Homo sapiens: one gene and its partners. The protein of the gene in region 2 binds, or shares a complex with, the protein of the main gene of each other region. Each region holds a gene or a part of one and is shown on either strand. Other genes may lie near its edges.

What was found.
Region 1: PKN1 (region 2) and AKAP13 share a complex: the UniProt entries of both Homo sapiens proteins name them as parts of the signaling complex.
Region 3: PKN1 (region 2) and MAP3K20 share a complex: the UniProt entries of both Homo sapiens proteins name them as parts of the signaling complex.

The regions. Positions count from the first base shown.
Region 1 is NC_000015.10:85,740,527-85,744,277, reverse strand, and holds part of AKAP13 (A-kinase anchor protein 13), read right to left. Parts: intron 3,233-3,751; coding exon 2,783-3,232; intron 787-2,782; coding exon 453-786; intron 1-452. UniProt on the Homo sapiens protein: Scaffold protein that plays an important role in assembling signaling complexes downstream of several types of G protein-coupled receptors.
Region 2 is NC_000019.10:14,457,192-14,460,942, reverse strand, and holds part of PKN1 (serine/threonine-protein kinase N1), read right to left. Parts: intron 2,913-3,751; coding exon 2,803-2,912; intron 2,712-2,802; coding exon 2,568-2,711; intron 1-2,567. UniProt on the Homo sapiens protein: PKC-related serine/threonine-protein kinase involved in various processes such as regulation of the intermediate filaments of the actin cytoskeleton, cell migration, tumor cell invasion and transcription regulation.
Region 3 is NC_000002.12:173,260,760-173,264,510, reverse strand, and holds part of MAP3K20 (mitogen-activated protein kinase kinase kinase 20), read right to left. Parts: intron 3,449-3,751; coding exon 3,374-3,448; intron 767-3,373; coding exon 616-766; intron 1-615. UniProt on the Homo sapiens protein: Stress-activated component of a protein kinase signal transduction cascade that promotes programmed cell death in response to various stress, such as ribosomal stress, osmotic shock and ionizing radiation.

The DNA of each region.
Region 1 (3,751 bases), on a different chromosome or scaffold from region 2:
CAGCCGCAGGCTCTGTGGCCGCTGGCACATTAGTTAGCCTCTGTGAGCCTCAGTTTCCTCACTTCTCTTGGGGTTAGCAGTGCCAACTTCATACAGTCATTTGAGGGTTAAATCACCAAATGCTAGCTGTTACCAATGACTACTCTAGGCCCAGAAAGGCAAGGAGGACTTGAATTACTTCATTGAGGGGTGAGCTCCAGTTCCTCGATCGGATAATGCCTTGAAAATGAAACCCATGCTCTCTGCTTCTGCACACGTGCCACACAGAGTGGGTTCTTAATGTTCGCTGCATGAGTGCTCTTAGCAAGCGGAGCTGGTGAAAAGGATGGCAGTTTGGCTTTTGAGCATCTGAACTGTCCCCTTTTCAACCCCGCCCCATGCCACTAAAATCTACCCTCTCTCAGAATGCACAGACACTATGGCCACAGGGAGAGCAGGTGTGCGTGACTCACCACCGGGCTGAGAGCGGCTGGTTTTGTTCTTCTTTTTTTTCTCCTTCTTTTCCTTTGGCTTTGTTAACCCAAACAGGCGGGTAGAGGCAGAGGTGGACGCAGGGGCCTGGCTCTGCCCTTCTGGTCCTTTGTTTGTCTGGCTGGTTGAACTCAGTATGTGAAAAGGCCCCTTATCTTTGTGTGTCCGAGAGATGCTGTTCCTTTTTGGGGACACTGAAAGTTCTGAGTCCAATGACCCTGATTTGGCTATGGAAGGTGCAGATGGCGAGGGGGGCTCCTCAGGACTGGGGAAGAACGATGGGATCCTCATCAGCTTGGTATGTGGATGGGAAACCTGTACATATTCAAGAGAAGGGTTTTCACTTGGAGGCTGTCAGCGTCCGTGATGCCAACTCAATAAATCCTGGCTGAATTCAACTGGGTGTGCTGGCTGGGTACTTACCCACCTCTGCGAACTCTACAGAGCTCACGTCTGTGGACTGCATAGAGCTTGAAGGTTTCATTAGCTGCCCTCCCCCAAGTAGTATCTATAAACATGTTAAAAATATCGCCTTTAATGCTGTTAATACTTTTACTACATACACAAACGCCGGCGTTGTAAAAAACCAATAGTACCTTTGATGGGGCGACTTAGAAAAGAATTCCCATTCCCTGAAGAAACAAGGAGAGCTGCTTAAGATTGCTCTACACAGGGATGCAGATAATTATTTTAAGGCAAAGAGATTATAGAAGCCTGTTCCGGTTAGAGGATAAGTGGAAAAGCCGAGCTTACACCAAGAATCCTAGTCACAGGTTAAACCAGAGATAAAGAGGATCATCTACTCTGGGTTCTCTTAGCTGCCTGGGAACCCTCCTTTGTCAAAGCACCGATTTTATTGGGATGGGGGTGGAATCCCTCCTTATGTCATAAAAAGCAACACATGGCATTTGCTGCTCCCCACCCCCAATATATTTGGCAACATCTGCAGAAAGCTACAACTGCCCCCTACCCTGGAAGCTGTCAGTATAATTTTCTTTCGTGGTCCAAGATCAATCAATCAAACAAACGGCAACATGGTATGCATTTCAAAACACAGGCAGATCTGTGTACACCCAGGCTCTCCATCTGCCACAAGCATCCATGTTTCGAAATAACCAAGGAATATCACTGAAATAAGCTCAGGAGTGAGTGTGCTGAATAACCAAAAGCCTTCCAATATAAGCAGCAGCTATAGAGAAAGAGAGGTTTTTCATCAGCAGTAGAGAGGCAAATCAGGAACTATGCAGAGTGCAGCTGTCTCAACATCCCCAAGCAAGAATATCATCCATCCACGAGAGGAGTGGCGGCCTCCCCTAGTTGCTGGGATGGGCGTTTCCCTCTGTAACTGCCTCCCACCGATCCTGCCACATGGGTTCTTCCAGCAACTCTGGCCTGAGAGCCATTTCCTGCTGTCTCAGGACCACAGGCACCACATGTTCTGGAGGCTCTTTTATTCTTGGTGTGCTTCCCCATTAAGCTACAAGTTCCTTCAGGTTGGGGCCATGCCTGATTTCTGATGTGGCACAGAGCAGTGGCGTTGCTCCTAAAATCCTGGATGGCTGACTGCCATTTTCTCAGACACACTGAGACTCCTCTAGCTGAGGGAAGTGCCAACTCCAAATATCCATTACTGCCCTGGCCAAAATGCCCCAGCACTTCCATTCTCTTTTTCAGCCTCTTAGAGATGCAAAAAGCAGAAGAAGACTTTCTGCCTCTGCCTCTCTTTCGGGGTAAAACAAAGATTCTTTTTGTTTTTCTGTGTGTGTTTTTTTGAGACGGAGTTGCTCAGGCTGGAGTGCAGTGGCGAGATCTCGGCTCGCTGCAATCCCCACCTCCCCGGTTCAAGCGATTCTCATGCCTCAGACTCCCAAGCAGCTGGGATTATAGGCGCCTGCCACCACACCCAGCTAATTTCTGTATTTTTAGTAGAGACGCCGTTTCGCCATGTTGACCAGGCTGGTCTCAAACTCCTGGCCTCAAGAGATCCACCTGCCTCGGCCTCCCAAGGTGCTGGGATTTATAGGTGTGAGCCATTGTGTCCAGCTACAAAGATTCTTAAAAACTGTTTTTTTTTTTTGTTTGTTTGTTTGTTTTTTTTTTTTTTTTTTTAGGAGAGACAGAGTCTCCCTCTGTTGCCCAGGCTGGTCAAGCTACCCTCTCACCTCAGCCTCCTAAAGTGCTGGGATCACAGGCATGAGCATCTGGCCAAAAACAGGCTCTATATTTCTGCTCACTTTCTTACCTTGCTTAATACACAGGGGGTCTTAATTAATATCATCATTAGGTTGCTCTCGGCAGGGAGTCCCATTACCTGACACAGGTCCCGTTCTGTCTGCCGCTGGCTGAGCCGCTCTGCCTCCCGGCGCAGCTGCTCCTGTTCCCTCTCAAGCTGTTTCTGGGCAGCACGCAGTCGCTCCAGGTCATACTGGTATGTGCCCTTCTTCTGCTGGAGCTCCTCCCGCTCCTTTTCCAGGTCCTGCTGCCCCTGCTGCACCTCCTCCTCGCGCTGGGCCAGGAGGGCCTCCCGCTCCCGCAGCTCCCTCTCACGAGCTTCCCACTCACGCTCGCGCCTGCGCTTCTCCTCGAGGTACTGGGCCTGCTGCTTCTGCAGGTTGGCCAGGTCCTGGCGCTGCTTCTCCAGGCTGCGCTGCTTCTCCTGCTCAATGAGGGAGCTCGGGCGGGACAAGCTGCGAGTGAGCGCCCTCTCGCTCAGCACCAGTTTCTGGTCCTCAATGTAGCTGTCCTGCTGCAGCACCACACCCTGGGAGGCACACAGAGGGGAGCCCTGCAACTCTGGCCAGGACGACAGCGAGCTTCTGGATCCCTCCCGACCCCACAGCAGGGGGCACCAGGCACTATGACGGACTAGAACTCTCCCCTCATTTTTCAAGCCCGTCTCATAAAAATGCTCCAGGATAATTGCAGCTGTTTATCATACAAGAACCTCAAAGGTGCAGGAACTCACGGGTTTTTGTCAATCTGGTTGCATGCTGTTTGCAGTCAGTGGTATTACCTGGGGTGGGGGGGGGGGTGGTTGTGTGTGTGTGTGTCTGTGTGGGTGGGTGGGTTGTGTGTGTGTGTGTTGGAAGTGGGAGAAAGTAGGAACGAGACAGGTTAGATCTTCAAGAAAGGAAGTGAGCAGAATTTGAGGATGTTCCTGGGAAGTCCGAAACAGAAGCTGTATTAGGAAGGCCACTCTATTCAAATACCACAGAGATACGGAATATAGAAACTTATAATCATACTTAAGGCTTTCTAAAGTGAAGTAATCTCCCAGATG
Region 2 (3,751 bases):
TAGATATATATACAGAGAAATATACAGGGATGGATAGATGGATGGATGATGCATACATAAGATTGATGGATAAGATGACTGACAGATAATAGAGACGGATGCATGGAAAAATAGATTGGTTGATAGATAATATATAGATAGAGATAGATAAATGGATAGATGGATTAGATAAATAGATGATATAGATACCTAATATAGATGGATACATAGATAAGACAGATAATATAGGTGTATCTATCAATGGATAGAGGATGCATTGATAAGATGGCTGGGCCGGGCGCGGTGGCTCACGCCGGTAATCCCAGCACTTTGGGAGGCCAAGGCGGGCAGATCACGAGGTCAGGAGATGGAGACCATCCTGGCTAACACGGTGGGTGAAACCCCGTCTCTACTAAAAATACAAAAAATTATCCGGGCGTGGTAGCGGGTGCCTGTAGTCCCAGCTACTCGGGAGGCTGAGGCAGGAGAATGGCATGAACCCGGGAAGCAGAGGTTGCAGTGAGCCAAGATCGCACCACTGCACTCCAGCCTGGGAGACAGCGAGACTCCATCTCAAAAAAAAAAAAAAAAAAAAAAGATGGATGGATGAATGCATAGACAGACAAAATGGATGGATGGACACGTAGGTGGGTAAATAATAGATAATATGTGTGTGTATACATATATAGGTAATCTATCATATATATATGTAAAATGGGGTACACATATAGGTTAGCGGAAGATTAAAAGAGTTTTTTAGGATAATTTGGCTAAATGAGGGGTCAAGTGCCCCTTCTCTGTGCCCCAGTTTCCTCCTCTGTCAAATTTGAGTAATAACAGTCCCTCTTTTGTTGGTTGGTTGTGAGAATTAATGAGTTCACGTCGCCAAAGTACTCGCTACAGAGCCTGGCTTATACTATGAGAACTCAGCTAGAAATGTCATTTAGACCAGGGGTTCCCGGCCAGGGAGCACTTGACAGTGTCTGGAGACCTCTGGGCTGTCAAAACTCAGGGGGAGGTGGTGCTACTGACATCCTGTAAGCAGTGGGGAGAGGTGCTACATCCTCTAGTATGCAGGACAGCCCCACCACAGAGGATGATGTGGCCCCAGATGTCAACAGTGCCAAGGGTAGGCCACCTCAATTCAGACCTTCACCCTCACACAGCTGTGGAAGGAATCACTTTCTCTTGACTGTGGCTCTGGTAGCAATCACCACGATATGTTGCCAGGTTTTGTATCTCTTTCCTGGTTGGAAGAAATTTTATAATTTATTTCCTTTTTTCTTTAAACATTTCTAAATTTGGAAATCAGCTTCTTCTTCTTCTTTTTTTTTTTTTTTAAGTATCTTGCCTCAGAACAAAACCAATCCCAGCTAAGGTCCTATCACTGATGTGGCTAATTAGAAGTGCTTTTCTTCTTCTTCTTCTTCTTTTTTTTTTTTTTTTGAGACAAGAGTCTCACTCTGTTGCCCAGGCTGGAGTGCAATGGCGTGATCTCAGCTCACTGCAACCTCTGTCTCCTGGGTTCAAGCAATTCTCCTGCCTCAGCCTCCCAAGTAGCTGGGATTACAGGTACCCACTATCATGCCCAGCTAATTTTTGTATTTTTAATAGAGATGGGGTTTCACCATGTTGGCCAGGCTAGTCTGGAACTCCTGGCCTCAAGTGATCCACCTGCCTCAGCCTCCCAAAGTGCTGGGATTACAGGCGTGAGCCACCACACCTGGCCAAGGTGTACTTTTCTATCAAGGTTCAGAGACAGATCTAAAATGTATCTTCCCCTTCTAGAATACACGGGTCTAAAACATACCTGCCACTTCTGAAAGAGCCTGATCTAAAACTATCTTTCTGTATTAAGAGAAACCATATCTAAAACATATCTTATGCTTCTAAAAGAGCCTGATCTAAAATGTATCTTCCCCTTCTAGAACAAGCAGATCTTTTTTTTTTTTGTGAGACTCCTGGGCGACAGAGTCTCACTCTGTCGCCCAGGCTGGAGTGCAGTGGTGGGATCTCAGCTCACTGCAGCCTCCGCCTCCTGGGTTCAAGCGATTCTCCTGTCTCAGCCTCCCAAGTAGCTGGGACTAAAGGCATGTGCCACGACGCCCAGCTAATTTTGTACTTTTAGTTGAGACGCGGTTTTACCATGTTGCCCAGGCTGGTCTCCCTGACCTCAGGTGATCCTCCTGCCTCAGCCTTCCGAAGTGCTGGGATTACAGGCATGAGCCACCACGCCCAGCCTAGAACAGGCAGATCAAAAGCCTATCTTCCCTTTCTAGAAGAGCCTGATCTAAAACATATCTTTCCCTTCTAGAAAAAAGCAGACCTAAAACGTCTCTTCCCCTTCTGGAAGAGCCTGACCTAAAACGTATCTTCTCCTTCTAGAAAAGGCAGAGTTAAAACATATCTTCCGTTTCTAGAAGAGCTGGATCTAAAATCTATTTTCCTCTTCTAGAAAAGCCTGACTTAAAACTTATCTTCCCCTTCTGGAAGAGCCAGACCTAAAACATATTTTCCCCTTCTAGGAAACTGGGAATGGGGCAGTGAGGGAGAAGAAGCATTTTCTCAGGGTCAGGTGTGGGCTATACCTCAGCCACCAGGCAGCCCTGGGGTTCCATGTCCAGCTGCACCTCATGCCTCTCATTGTCCAAGAAATCCTCCAACTTCAGGAATTTGAGGGCACACAGGCCCCGCTGGTCCCGCCAGAACACAGCCAACTCCAGTTCCCGTGCCTGGAGGGAGAGGAAGAGGGCCATCACTCAGGGTGCCAGAGGCATGGAACCCCTCCTCCTCTAGGCCCTGCTGTCCTCCAACGCAGCTCACCCTTTCCAGCTCCAGAGTGAAGCTCTGGTCCCAGGCATTGGGGCCACATGGCTTCCAAGACGTCTGCCCCACCACTGTGTTATCCAGCTTAAGCACAGTGCTGACTTCACCTGAAATGGGAGAGAGGGCCCAGTCAGAAAATGCTGGCAGTAGCCAGACAAGGTTGCTCATGCCTGTAATCCCGGCACTTTAGGAGGTTGAGGCAGGCGATCACTTGAGGCCAGGAGTTCAAGACCAGCCTGGCCATCATAGCGAAACCCCGTCTCTACTAAAAATACAAAAAATTAGCTGGGCGTGGTGGCACGCGCCTGTAATGCCAGCTACTCGGGAGGCTGAGGAAGGAGAATCACTTGAACCCAGGAGGCAGAGGTTGTAGTGAGCCAAGATCGTGCTACTGCGCTCCAGCCTGCGTGACACAGCAAGACTCGGTCGAAAAGAGAGAAGAGAAGAGAAGAGAAAATAAAAACGGCCAGGCACAGTGGCTCATGCCTGTAATCTCAACACTTTCGGAGGCTGAGGCAGGTGGATCACCTGAGGTCAGAAGTTTGAGACCAGCCTGACCAACATGGTGAAACCCCATGTCTACTAAAAATAAAAAATTACCCAGGCGTGGTTGCACATGCCTGTAATCCCAGTTACTCGGGAGGCTGAGGCAGGAGAATCCCTTGAACCCAGGAGGCAGAGGTTGCAGTGAGCCGAGATCACGCCACTGCACTCCAGCCTGGGCAACAAGAGTGAAGCTCCATCTCAAAAAAAAAAAAAAAGAAAAAAAAAAAAGAAAAAGAAAGAAAATCCTGGCAGAAAGGGGCATGTCTATTATCTTTTTCTTTTTTTTTTTTTTTTTCAGTAGAGATGAGTCTTGTTATGTTGCCCAGGCTGGTCTCAAACTCCTGGCCTCAAGTGATATTCTCCTGCCTCAGCCTCCCAAGTATCTGGGATTACAGGCATG
Region 3 (3,751 bases), on a different chromosome or scaffold from region 2:
TAGAAAAGTTTTCCTTACTCCTATATATAAGAACAGGTAGGGACCTAACCCGTTATTTCCTCTGGGCGTTGTGATATCTTTGTGTGATGACTGTAAACAGGAGAGGAGCCGAGGGCAAAGGCAGCCTATTGAGCATGGCAGGGCAGAAAGAAGGGAAGGTTCATTCCACTCTCTGAATATGGTTGAGCCAGCTTATCTTACTGCACCTGGAGCCTGCCCTACCTCTGGGCTTCTTGTTATGGAAGATAATAAATTTTATTACAGTTTAAATCAGTGGCTTAAGGACTTTAGAGTTGTTCTTAATCACTGGGAAGGCTCCTTAAAATGCAGACTGCAGCTCCTATCCCCAGAGTTCTGATTCAGTAAGTCTGGGTTTGGGCCTGAGCATCTGGATTTCTAGCAAGTTCACAGGTGATCCCGATGCTCCTGGTCCTGGGGCCACACTTGGGGAATTATTGGAGTAAGCCAGTTGCAACTGGGTTTTCTGCTACTCGAAGCTCAAAGATAGATCTTAACTGATTGAGGTGGTATCCTCTGAGTCTTTAGATCATCTGGAAATGTCATAATTAAGTTTCTGGAATCTAGCACACATCTAATACGGGAACACTAACTTACTTGAGTCGGACCTGCTTCCAGGGTTGCCATCTGAATTGGTGAATAATGTCTGAATGGCAAGTTGGACTGCTTTCACTTCATCCTGAGGTTTTGTTCTACTCCACTGAATCGAATGGACATGTTTAGTGCTTTTTGGAGTTCTAACATCACTCTGGTAAAACAAACAAACGAAAAAGACAAAAAAAAGACAAATAGAAACATATGACCAAATAGACACACATATATAAAATGGGAAAGAAAGTCATCCAGGTTATTATATCACTTCAGTTTCACCTCTTAGAACACTATCATAATGCACTAGGAAAATATTCTGAACAGTTGGCCCAAATATGCTAATTCAATGAAAAGAAAAATTTTAACCACTTTATTTCTTAGTGGGTTATAGCACTTATTCCTTAATGGATTATAACATAAATTTCTTAGTAAACTATAGTAGCTAAAAAATATGGTTGTCTTTTCCCAGAATTTATTATATTTGACAAATCTCAACTTACCTCTTTGTTTAATAAGAAATAAAAAATTACATCTTCTATTTATAGTACTTGATGACAGCTATTTTGTTGAATAAATGAAAATCTGACCACCATGTTTGCCTAAGACTGAATTTGGATCATCAAGGAAACTGAGTGAAGGTGGTGGGGTGAATTACCTGCACGGAGGGGAAAGGGTCTCAGATGCAAAAGTGAGACAGGATCAAGAAGTAAGAAATGGGGACCAGGAAAAGGAGAGGACACTAGGTCAAGACACATTACTTTCTTGTTCTGAAATCTCCCTCCTCACTAGCTGTCACCAATCAGTGTCAATTAAAGAGTCTCCAGGATTCAATATGGTTAGGGAAATCTGTTTTAAAAAACTCTGAAGTGAAAAACCCAGACAAAAGTGGCATATCATCATGGGGTCTGAAAAAGGAGGAGGAGGGAGAGAGAAGAAGAAAAAGAGAACTGGGTGTGCTGTCTCCAAAACTGTCTAAGGCAGGCAGAGGTAGAATCTGGTTGTTCTAATTGTCCGATTACTAACAAGAGGGCTTTTCCTGGGTAGTGAGGACCAGTTAACAGGCTGTAGAGTAGTCTAGTTTCCAAGTTCCTCAAGACCAACCAGCCTCTTTTGTTTGGGTTTTGCACCTTGCAAGCAATGCTTTGACAAGTAATATAACTTCTCAGATGCCTCATCCCTGACAACCTGTGCACCCCAGCAGGTGAGGATAAATAACTGCTGTAAAACTTTTTGGCTTCCAGCCTGGATAAGTGGACTGGCCAGAGTTTGTATTGCTTTGCTTTTCTTTTTTTTTTTCTTTTTTGAGACAGTTTTGCTCTTGTCTCCTGGGCTGGAGTGCAATGGCGCAATCTCAGCTCACCACAACTTCTGCATCCAGGGTTCAAGCGATTCTCCTGCCTCAGCCTCCTGAGTAGCTGGGATTACAGGCATGCACCACCATGCCCAGCTAATTTTTGTATTATTAGTAGAGATGACGTTTTACCATGTTGGCCAGGCTAGTCTCGAACTCCTGACCTCAGGTGATCCACCCGCCTTGGCCTCCCAAAGTGCTGGGGTTACAGGCTTGAGCCACCGTGCCTGGCCCAGGGTTTGTATTTCTAATATTGAAAAGCCAAATCCTGGCAGCCCAGGAAACCATCAAAATGCCACACTCACAGAGTCCTCTTTGAGGTGGACTTCATCTTACTGCAGCCACTGGGAGCTAACAGGGTAGCCAGGGAAGCGCAGAAAGTGTTTTTTATAGTCAGAAAACATGGAATTGACTTCAACAATTCTGTCAGTGAGGACCTCACACCTCAAGACTTCCTTTCATCTCTCTGAGCCTATTCTTCCTATCTGCAAAATGAGGATAATAATATCTTTCAGTATTTTTTTTTTTTTCTGGAGACAGGGGTCTCACTGTCTCACCCAGGCTGGAGTGCAGTGGTGTGATCTCGGCTCACTGCAGCCTCAACCTCCTGGGCTCAAGCAATCCCCCGACTTCAACCTCCCGAGTAGCTGGGACCATAGTCATGTGCCACCACACCTGGCTACTTTTTGTATTTTTTGTAGAGATAGGGTTTCATAATGCTGCCCAGGCTGGTCTCAAACTCTTGGGCTCAAGTGATCTGCCCACCTCAGCCTCCCAAAGTACTGAGATTACAGGTGTGAGCCACTGCGCCTGGACGATATTTTTCAGTATTGATTTACATGAAGTTAGTGTGATCAAACTGGTGTAAGCACCTCTAATAGTGCCTGGTTCATGGTAGATCCTTAATAAATGTTTCTTGAATGAATGAATTGATGAATGAATGAAATGCATGTCCCTTTGATGGTGGGTGCACACTAATATTTCCAGGTGTGCCAAGACTGTACTATAACTGTTGCCTTCCACCCACTCCCACCGGGTCTACGTACCTTGTAAGGTGTATGTCCTACCAGCCATGAAGATCTTGTTGATTTAAAAAAAATTAGTATTAACTATTAGTATCCCCAATACCAAACATCTTACATGGTATACAGAAGGTGTTCAATCCATAACTAATGAATGACTGAAGTACTACCTCAGTCGCTATCTGGGTAAGTTTATCCTGTTCTCTTTTCTTCCCAACACGTTGTGAGAGAAATTATATTGATCTTCCTATGTTCATGTTGGTTGGTTTACTCCCAATAAATTATATGCTCTGGGTATATCTCCCAATAAATTATATGCTCTGAGATAACAGATAAATTTATATTCATTAACTGATGGTGAGGCCACCAGCCTCTTGCCCCCAGAGCTTACCTCATATGTGACAGTGCACTCCACAGTCTGACTTTTTGCTATTCCTACAATCCACTTCTCCATTACAAATGGTGGCTGAAAAACAAAAGTTAGGATGGTGTAGTACCATAACACAGTCTGCTCTACTATAGTATGTTTCTTTGAGGCCGGTTGTGCCATACACAATTAGCAAATAGGGGCATAATATCAGATTATCATGAAAGCCTTGTTGGTTCTCATGTGATCACTCACAACATGCTAATGTTTGAAGTTTTGCTTTTCATAAGACATCCTTTTGTATATTTGTAAACAGCTAGTCATGGCCTCCCACAATCTTCTTTTCCGATATAACATTTGCTATCACTCAATCCTATCATTAGGTCATTAATTCTTGCTAAA